Homo sapiens: one gene and its partners. The protein of the gene in region 3 purifies or fractionates together with the protein of the main gene of each other region. This does not show direct contact. Each region holds a gene or a part of one and is shown on either strand. Other genes may lie near its edges. The genes, in order: ANKRD22, PPP4R3A and UBE4A.

Region 1 (3,734 bases), on a different chromosome or scaffold from region 3:
GTTTAATTATAGTTCCTCAAATTCTGTGGCATTTAAATACCCAATGAAATAATAACATTTTTGACGGGCAGACTTGTTCTGCGGCTGATGTTAACAGGTGTAACCAATATTCACAGTTTATGAGCTACAACAAGGAGGGAGCTTGGTCATTTAATTAAAGTAAATTATGCATCTCTTGAGTCATGTCTGAGAAGTGGAACTGGGCACAAAGGAAACTAGATGGATAAAAGTGAGTAAGTCAGTGCAGATCTGTTACCCTATTGGGAAAAAAAACCAAAAACCATCTCAAGCTTCATCTTCTACTCCTCATATGACTGCATCTCTATACCAACTACATCTTTCTTTATTCAAGAAAATTGCTGTCTGCCAAGATTCATCCAAGCATGAAGAAATTCATCAAGGTGAAAATGGGCTTAAATTCTCAACAAGTATCTTCTGTGTGTGTCAGCTTCTGGATGCAAACTTTTAGGATCTGTTTTTCAACACACCACCAGAGGAGTACTTAAAAATCAGTAAGTCAGAAAGATAAATCCAAAAACACAAACTCCTCTTTTAAAAAAAGGAGAAAAAAATATTAGAAGGGGTGTTTTTTAATATTCAGAATTTTTTTGCTCCCTTCAGAAAAGTCTTAGTTAAGGTTAAATTATTTTTCTAAATCAACATTGCATGGATTATGTTACCATTGATTAACTATTTTTGCTAGCTTTCTTCTTGCTGTACTTCAATTATAGCATTGGATGTATGTTGAACATGTCAATTACAGAATACAAACCAAAGGCTTTTTTTGTTTTTATTTCTTTTCAACATCTCACTGGCCTGGCAAGAGTCAATGAGTCACACCATCGATCTCCACATTTGCCCTTTGCTCTACAAGTGTTGTACTCACCATGAGGAAATACCCAATAAGCAGAACAGGCATTAAGAGGATAATTAGTAGATAATCAATGAAGGTAAATTTTTTCTTCACAGCATAATGCAAGCAGGTTCTCTCTTTCTAAAAATTAAGAAAAGGATTCTTTACTAATAAAGCATTTCAATTCAAAATTTATTCAGATGGCCATCTCAAAAAGTTTAGTTTGTGCTTTTTGTTTTTCCGGTACCCATGGCATCTTTTCCTGTGGGATACATCTGATTACTGAATGCGGCTTTCCATGGAGCAGAACAGAGAACTCGGTCCAGTGTAAAGGAAAAGCTAGGGAAGGGCTCCTGGGAGTCAACAAAGGTGAAATGTACACAGCAGAGCTCATCAGAAGACAGATTCTTATACCCACTTAGTTTTTGGAAAAAAAGATACACTGAGATATAAACTTAGGACTGAATTTACTATGAAAATTGATAGTTATCCCTTAATCATCTACCATGTGTACGATTATCCATTTTGTGGTTTGTTCATAGGAAAACTCTTAACCACATGGCTGTTTTTCATGTTCCTTCATGTGCATAGTCTAGAAGAATGCATATAACTCAATTTTATTCTTCAAATATGTGAATACTTATCAGGTAATAGATGTCAGCTTCCAAGGGTTGTGGGAGATGTGAACTCTTAGGGCCTCATAATCAAAGATGGACAGAAATATGCACAAATAAATATAAGGCAAAACAGAAGGTGGTAATTGGAATACCAATCAAATCAGTAAGAGGAGAGGGAGCCCAAGAGAAAGAAAGGAGGTTAGTTTCCACTTATGCAAGGCACTGTACCTAAATAAGAACACTTTTTGTTTTTCTAATATGAAGGCATTTATATTTTCTGTAAAAAAATTTTAGAAACTAGAGAGGAACATAACGATAGAATTTTAAATTGCCCATTATTATATTAAATGGTCCAGAGTTAACTGTTGACATTTTGTTGTATTTTCTTCCAGTCTTCTTAAATGCATAAATGTGGAATTTTGAAATGTAGAATGATATTGCATATGCAATATCATATCTTGCTTTTTTCAGTTCAGAAACGTATATTTAGAATATGTACATTTTTCCATGCAATTCAATATTTTTAAACATATGATTGTAATGGCTGCATGGCTTAGTATTGAGTGGAACTACTCTGATGTATTTAGCTAAGCCCTGCCTTTTGAACATTTCATGGTTTTTGAGGGTTTTGTTTTTGTTTTTGTTTTTCTGTGAGACAGGATCTTGCTTTGCCACCTAGGCGGGAGTGCAGTGGCACAATCCTAGCTCACTGCAGCCTTGACTTCCTGGTCTCAAGCGATCCTTCAACTTCAGCCTCCAAAGTAGCTGGGACTACAAACATGTGCCACCACACCTGGATAATTTTTTACTTATTATTATTTTGTGTAGAGATGCGGGGGTCTTGCTATGTTGCCTAGGCAGGTCTTGAACTCCTGGTCTCAAACTATCCTTCCACCTTGGCCTCCCAAAATGCTGGGATTCCAGACATGAGCCACTGCACATGGCCCGTTTCAAGTTTTAAACTTTTCATTTTTATAAATAATATTGCCTGAACCTGCTCATTCATAAATTTTTGTCAACATTTCCAAATTTGTCCTTTGCCTACATTTCTAAAAATAGAATTCCTGGCATAAAAAGTATTAATGCTTTTCATATTGCGCTATCAAATTGTGTTCTAATAAGACAATAATAACTTAAACTTTCTGATCAACATTTGTTTTCTTTTTTAATCTTGGTCAGTTTGACAGACAAAAACAAGGATCTTTATGTTTTAATTTAATTTGCTATCAATAGAATCCATAGGCTTGTGCTTCTGAATCTCCAGCAGAGCTTTTTGTTTGTTTGTTTGTTTTTAAGGTGTTTGTTTGTTTAGTGTTTCTGGAAATAATTTATAAACAGATTTCAGACATGAGAAATCACAGGTTCAAATTATTAATGTACAAATATTAATATTTGGAGAAAATAAAAATATTAAATGCTAACATTAGAAACATTTGAAAGTGGAAAATGCAAACCAAAAACTTCTACTGATAAAATCTATTAATCTAATGTATCCACTAAAGTCTTTTTCATGGTTTTTATGATACCAGAAAATCCCAGCAGGCTGGCTGAGGCCCTCCTCTTCTGCAAAGCGGAGATAAAAGTGTCTCCTCAGCCTTGCCCATGGGCTAACGTCTCCTCCCTCAGTTTCCTAACGAGCGCACCTCTTAAAAGAGCGCAGGAACCCACAGACATCTGTCTTCTGGCACTACCACTCACTGCAACTCCACATATCTGGTTTCACAGCAGTGATCTACAGAGATCCTATTATAGTCCACGATGTTGCATATCTGTTCCATTCAGCACAGGCATGACTTGCTTTTAATCGCAACCAAACCAAAAATAGTAAGCATAAATAAAAAAGTCCAGTAATGATCAATTTTCTGATAATACATTGTTACTCCTGATGAGCTAGTCTCCAAATGACTTAGAAGGGGCAAGGGGGGATTTCCAGTGTTTTCTCGCCTTGAATGCATATAAGTGGGTACAGGACAGTCATAATGATTGCAAAAAAATGGCTTAATATTTATTCAGTGTAATTTAAATATTGCCTTCACTACGATGCAAATGCTAGATGTTCAGAAAGGGCTCCACAAGGATTTTCACAGCAATACACACATATTCTTCTCTTTCTTGGTCCTGAAGGCTCCAAAGTAGCTAATATTGCATCTTTAAATATATTCTTTACACCTTTTTGTGTGACTTCAAGTAACCTCTGGCTCATGAGCTTATTTGTCCTTGGTAAATTTCTCAATAGTACTCTTTCATTCTACAAGAACACTATA
Region 2 (3,500 bases), on a different chromosome or scaffold from region 3:
TGTGTGTGTGTGTGTGTGTATGGGTGCAAATAACAATTCTTTCTTTGTACTACACAAACTTATTTTTTTGTTGTTGAGATAGGGTCTCACTCTGTTGCTCAGGCTTGAGTGCGGTGGCATGATCATTGCTCACTGCAGACTCAAACTCCTGGGCTCAAGCGATTCTCCCAACTCAGCCTCCCACATGGCTGGGATTATAGGCATGCATCACCATACCTGGCTAATTTAAAAAAAAAAAAAAATCTTTTTTGAGACAGAATTTCACTCCTGTTGCCCAGGCTAGAGTGCAATGGTGTGATCTCAGCTCACTGCAACCTCCGCCTCCCAGATTCAAATGATTCTCTCGTCTCAGCCTCCCGAGTCTGGGATTACAGGCGTCCACCATCACGTTTAGCTAATTGTTGTATTTTTAGTAGAGACGGGGTTTCGCCATGTTGGCCAGGCTGGTCTTGAACTCTTGACCTCAGGTGATCCACCCGCCTTGGCCTCCCAAAGTGCTGGGATTGTAGGCGTGAGCTACCGCATCCAGCCCCAGGCTAGTCTTTAACTTCTGGGTTCAATCGATCCTCCTGCCTTGGCTTCCCAAAGTGGTGGGATTACAGGTATAAGCCACTAGGCCCAGCCTATGTAAACTTCTATTTCAGTTAGAATAGACCAATTCACACACTGGGATGACACAGTAAGAGCTTTTCTAATTTTGGGGGTGTTACAAACGCAAATTATTGTCTAGCTCTCAGAGACTTTGACTCAGGTTTTGTGCAGAATTCATGATACTGCACCCTAGGGGACTGTGATGCAAATACCCTAAAACACCAGATCAGAGAGATTGGGCATACTATAAGAAAAAAAAATCTACATTTTAATAAGCAATTATCAATAGACACTTAAAAAATTCCCATGAATCTTACATCATATTAAACACTTTCTTTACATGCCTGACCTCAGTTAATTTTCAGACAACTTTACAGGGTAGGCATTAATGTCACCATCCTTCAGATGGGGAAACCGAAGCTTTAAGAAGTTAAGGCTGCCCAACTCACATAGCTACTGTTATTAAGTGACAGACGGAGCTGAAACTCAAATTCACATGGGTTTAACTCACCCACAGGCACACCCCTTAGCAAAACGTGGCTTTTGGTAGGGATACATGCAGTTATAATTTGCCTCCTCTGCTACATTCCCTAGACCCTGAAACTGGACTTTTACCGTATCATTATCTGGGAATTTTACAAATTCGTTTTAAATTTTATTTTTTTGGTAGAGACAGGCCATAGCGCCTGGCCCACAATTCTCATTAGAATTTATATTCTGTGTTTGGTGACATTTCTCTTGGCTTTGTGCTTCACTCTTTCCTCTTCCAATCTGTTCTATTCTATGCAAAATTCATAGAGTAATAACCCCAAAGTTCAGCATTCAACCATTTCATTAATATTATCCTCCTATAGTTGAGTATGGTGGCTCACAACTGTAATCCCAACACTTTGCAAGGCTAAGGTGGGAGAATTGCTTGAAGCCAGGAGTTTGAGACCAGCCTGGGCAACAAAGTGAGATCCATTCTTTACAAAAAAATTTTTAAAAGGTGGCTATGGTAGCATGCATCTGTAGTCTTAGCTAATTGGAAGGCTGAGGTGGGAGGACGGCTCAAGCCCAGGAGTTCAAGGTTGCAATAAGCTATGGCTGTGCCACTGCACTCCAGCCTGGGCAACAGAGCAAGACCTCAACTTAAAAAAAAAAAAATCAGGCTGGGCCCAGTGGCTCACACCTGTAATCCCAGCACTTTGGGAGGCCAGGGCAGGCAGATTGCTTGAGCTCAGAGGTTTGAGGCCAGCCTGGGCAGTATGACAAACTCCATCTCTACAAAAAATACAAAAATTGGCTGGGGGTGGTGGTGCACACCTGTGGTCCCAGCTACTCAGGAGGCTGCAGTGGGAGGATTGTTTCAGCCAGGGAAGCGAAGGTGGAGGTTGCAGTCGCTGAGACTGCATTATTGCCCTACAGCCTGGGTGACAGAGCAAGACCCTGTATCCAAAAAATCATCCCCTCATACCATTTCTTCAAACTACATTTGTCACACTTACCTCTCCTACCCCAGATAGAGTAACCTTCTGGTCTCGTATTATTATTGTATATTATAATCTCTTAAAATAACTCACAATACTTAACTTTATACATTAACAAAATTAAAACTCAATGTATGTATTTAAAAGGAGCAAATTGTTTTCGCTGCATCTCTTGAAATATGAAAAAAGGAATGATCTAACTCACCTGCAACATGCCAACAATCTCTACCTTATTGAAAAAGATAAAAGAGTGAAGTGTTGATAACATGTTTTCTTCAAAGACCGAAGGAGTTGGTAGAACCATATCTTGTATATACTGAACTCTGTATGTCTGATGAATTTTTTGTTTCAGCTCAGGATCTGATATGGGAATCACTTCTTTAAACTTGGCTGTTTTTGTTAGAAATTCCCTGTGTTTTCGTGGTTGTGATAAAGCAGGATCATATTCTAAACATCCAATGACGTCCATTATACATTCTTCAGAGAACATAACTTCAAAAAGAGCAGTTCGATTCAAGAGAAAGATGCCTTTGATAATTTCATACAAGTGGTGCAGTCCTTCAATATTTTCCAAATCTTCACACACATGAAAAAGCTCCAGGAGCTTTTTAATATAACCCTCATTTTCTAGTGCCAGTGCAAGTTTTTCACGACGAAGAGGTGAAGGTAAAGATGATGCCACAAGTTCTGCAATTTCTTCAAGGCGACTTAATTCACAAGATGGCAATTCTAAGCCTGGCGATGACATATCATCAAAACGCTCCTCTTCAGATTCATCCACAAGGTCCTGAGTGATGTCCACGGAAGGGTCCTTTCCTTGAACCTATGAAAAAAAATTTAATTGCTGACAAAATAGATAACAGGTGACCAGCAAACCTAAATGCTACTCTAAGATGAATACTAGAAATGTTGTAAGAAACCTATAATGGTCATTTTCAAGACAAAACTGCCTACTTTTCTACATTACATTTCTCCAAATATGTATACTTTCAATTTTAAGGAAGTTAGTCAAAGTTCAAAAACAGAATGAGCTTCCCTATAAAGTATGAGGTCTGCTGGCAAGAACAACTTTCTAGGACAGGCTAAACTAAGTGAGACTGTTACGAAACAGCCCTCTGCAGACCCACAACATAGAAGCCTGATGCTAAAACAGCCACTAACATCTCATATCCCTGGCCCTCTTTTCCAGCAGACCAAGGCAAGTCTCAGAAACAGTCCTAGGACTGTGCTAAAGGACACTGCCACCACCAAACTCTTCAATATTTAACTCTGAGGTGAAGACCAAATAAACACCAAATATCATAATGTTATGATCACAGAAAATATATATAATTATAAGCAAAAAGGAAAATATTTAACATCAATTGATTGTAGAAACCAAGGGCCAAAGAGCATGAACAAACTGGCTTTGGACCAAAGTGAGTCACTGATCTTCTATAA
Region 3 (3,734 bases):
AAGCGGGAATGGCATCCCTAGCCGTTGTGTGTATTTGGAAGAAATGGCAGTAGAGCTAGAAGATCAAGACTGGCTTGATATGAGCAATGTTGAGCAGGTAATATTCTTACGTTCCTAATGTGTGCCCTTAGCAAAAATTAGCTATGCGGCTGAATTCTGCTCACTGTTCTCCAACTTATGCTTGTGTCCATATGTCCATCCCTCTCTCTTTTTTTTTTTTTTTTTTTACCAGTAGAAGGCCAAGTAACCTGGATGTGCATCTCTAACATTGTGGTGTTCCTCTTTTGGAATCTTTTCATCTACCATGGCCACATGCCCAAATCTACCCATCCTCTAAGAACCAGTTAAAATGCCTTCTTAATTACAAAGCCTTGGCCAGGCACATTGACTCACGCCTGTAATCCCAGCACTTTGGGAGGCTGAGGCAGGTGGATCACGAGGTCAGGAGATCAAGACCATCTGGCTAACATGGTGAAACGCCGTCTCTACTAAAAATACAAAAAATTAGCTGGGCATGGTGGTGGGCGCCTGTAGTCCCAACTACTTGGGAGGCTGAGGCAGGAGAATGGTTTAAACCCAGGAGGCGGAGGTTGCAATGAGCCGAGATCATACCACTGCACTCCAGCCTGGACAACAGAGCAAGACTCCGTCTCAAAAAAAAAAAAGAAAAAATTACAAAGCCTTGCCAAATAAAAGTTGTTACTCCCTCCTCTGGGTACCTAGAATAATCAGCCTCTGAATCTCTTGTGGGAATTGTCACTTTCTGTCTCATGTTGCGGCTTTCTTATGTACCTGTCTTATCTCCCCTATTAGACTTAAGTTCTTAAGGGCAAGGCCCATCGCTTTTTCTTCTTTATATCCTTTCTATCTTAGTCTGTTTTGTGTTGCTATAAAAGAATACCTGTGACTAGGCACAGTGGCTCACATCTGTAATCCCAGCACTTTGGGAGGCCAAGTTGGGAGGATCTCCAGGCCAGGAGTTACCAGCCCTGGCAACATAACAAGACCATGTTTCTACAAAAAATACAAAGAATTAACTGGGTGTGATGGCATGTACCTGAAGTCCTAGCTACTCAGGAGGCTGAGGTGGGAGGATTGCTTGAGCCTGGGAGGCAGAGGCTGCAGTGAGCCATAGTCACACGACTGCACTCCAGCCTGGGCGACAGAGCAAGAAAGACCCATCTAAAAAAAAAAAAAAGAACACCCAAGCAGTAATTTATAAAGAAAAGTTTATTTAGCTCACAGTTCTGCAGGCTGAGAAGATTCAGGGTATGTCCTTGGCCTCTGGTGAGGGCTTTTGTGCTGCCTCACAATGTGGTGGAGGAAGTCACCAAAGGACACATACCATGAGGACGCATGCAAGGAGGAGAAAACCTGAGAGGTGTCCTGGCTTAATAAGAACCCGCTCTGGAGGGAATTTGTCCATTCCTATGAGAATTAATCCAGTCTTGTGAGAGCAAGAACTCATTCAGCACCTTGAGAAAAGCACCAAGCAATTCAGGAGGGATCCGCCTCCATACCCAGACACCTCCCACTAGCCCCACCTCCAACAGTGCCACATGGAGATCAAATTTCAACATGAATTTTGTTGGAGACAAACATATAAACCACAGCACTTTAAAAATCAAAACAGTGCGTTGTACCTTGCAGGTGCCTGAGTAACATTAAAAGAATAAAAGTTTGGTAGGAAAGACAGTTGACAGCTTGCAGTTTAACTTCACATTTGGAGTATCTTTATATAAGTCTGAATGAGATCAGCAATCACACAGAATAGTAGATTTCACATCTAAGTTTAATCACTGATCTCAGCACCATTCAACAAATAGTCTTTTAATGCCTACTCTATGCTGGGGCTATACTAGACACTTGAGGCTTGATTTAGGATAACTTTATATATGCCATAATTTTCTAAAATTTTCTAAAGTAAAAATATACAGGGCCCTTTTTTTCTCCTTCACTCTACATTCAAATCTGTGATTCTTGCTAATAACCTGTGTCAGAATTACCTTTTACATCTTAATGTTCTCAGATTAATTTTGCAATAGTTTAGTATTTTTGTTTGGTTTTCTTTATAGGCCCTCTTCGCTCGCTTATTACTTCAAGATCCAGGCAACCACTTAATTAACATGACTTCTTCTACAACGCTAAATCTCTCTGCTGATCGAGATGCAGGAGAGAGGCACATTTTTTGTTACCTTTACTCCTGCTTCCAGAGAGCCAAGGAAGAGGTAAAGGAATAATCCCCATTGAATACTGTATTGTCCTCTTGGGTATGACTTCAGCATGTGGGCCAGAGTTGGATCAGTCTTTATTTCAATTTATATATGTCATAGTATGTCTAGAAGTGAATATCAGGGACACTAAAGCTTTTATATCAATTTATATATGTCATAGTATGTTTAGAACACTGGATATCAGATGCACTAAAGCTTTAGTCTCCTTTCCGTATCTTGGGGTCCACCCTTCTCCCCAGTTAACCAATGCCTCCTATTCTCTCTAAAACCTCTTTAGAAATCACATCCTTAAAAAAATCTCATGAGGCTGGGCACAGTGGCTCACTCCTGTAATCCCAGCACTTTGGGAGGCCGATGCAGGCGGATCACATGAGGCCAGGAGTTCGAGACCAGCCTGGCCAACATGGCAAAACCTTTACTGAAAATACAAAAATTAGCCGGGCATGGTGGCACACATTTATAATCCCAGCTACTCAGGAGGCTGAGGCAGGAGAATCACTTGAACCTGGGAGGTGGAGGTTGCAGTGAGCTGAGATCACACCACTGCACTCCAGCCTGGGTGACAGAGCGAGACTCTGTCTCAAAAATCAGAAAAGGGCTCATGAATTCATTTCCACTGAGATGTAAATATTAGAGTAGGCTAAGCCGGATATTTCCAGGTTTGGAATTTTAAATAGGCAGATAGATGATTCCTTAAGCCAAGGAAGGAATCTCTAATTAATTTTCAAGCATCCACAGGAGACCAGTATGTCTCTTCTATTGTATTCACTATGTCTACTTTCGTTCCAGATTACAGAGTTAGACTATTCCCTCTTTTCTTCATGCTGTTTGCAGATTACCAAAGTTCCAGAGAACCTGCTACCCTTTGCAGTGCAGTGCAGAAACCTCACTGTGTCCAATACCCGAACAGTTCTTCTCACCCCAGAGATCTATGTTGACCAAAACATCCATGAGCAACTGGTAGATTTGATGTTAGAAGCCATCCAGGGAGCCCGTGAGTACATGAACAAGATCTGTAAGCTTCTACATTTTGATTTTCAGATTTAAAATTTCACTAATTGCATTAGAAAGTCTCAGAGCCATTATGGTTCTGGTATAAATTAAGGAGGAGGGCTCACATCTTGATCTTTGAGGTTGAGTACCAATAGAATAAAGCTGGGCATGGTAGCACACCCCTGTAGTCCCATCTACTCTGGAGGCTGAGGCAGAAGGATCCCTTGAGCCCAGGAGTTTGAGGCTGTAGTGTGCTATAATCACACCTGTGAATAGCCACTACACTCCAGGCTGAGCAAAAAAACAAGACCCCCAGCTCTAAAAAAAAAAAAAAAAGAATTATTGAAAGTAAAGAGCTAGTGTGTAAAGGCATATAAAAATTCTTGTGCCCTCCTTTCTCTCTCATTTGTCTTCTGTTAGATTTTGAAGATGTAACTGAGTTTCTGGAAGAGGTCATTGAAGCCTTGATATTGGATGAGGAAGTTAGAACATTTCCAGAAGTCATGA

The links.
Region 1: the proteins of UBE4A (region 3) and ANKRD22 purify together in Homo sapiens (co-immunoprecipitation; one large-scale study listed by IntAct). This does not show direct contact.
Region 2: the proteins of UBE4A (region 3) and PPP4R3A fractionate together in Homo sapiens (co-fractionation; one large-scale study listed by BioGRID). This does not show direct contact.

What each region holds. Positions count from the first base shown.
Region 1 is NC_000010.11:88,827,673-88,831,406, forward strand, and holds part of ANKRD22 (ankyrin repeat domain-containing protein 22), read right to left. Parts: intron 995-3,734; coding exon 887-994; intron 1-886.
Region 2 is NC_000014.9:91,479,311-91,482,810, forward strand, and holds part of PPP4R3A (serine/threonine-protein phosphatase 4 regulatory subunit 3A), read right to left. Parts: intron 2,884-3,500; coding exon 2,266-2,883; intron 1-2,265. UniProt on the Homo sapiens protein: Regulatory subunit of serine/threonine-protein phosphatase 4. May regulate the activity of PPP4C at centrosomal microtubule organizing centers.
Region 3 is NC_000011.10:118,369,439-118,373,172, forward strand, and holds part of UBE4A (ubiquitin conjugation factor E4 A), read left to right. Parts: coding exon 1-97; intron 98-2,075; coding exon 2,076-2,228; intron 2,229-3,068; coding exon 3,069-3,228; coding exon of another isoform or gene 3,229-3,249; intron 3,250-3,647; coding exon 3,648-3,734.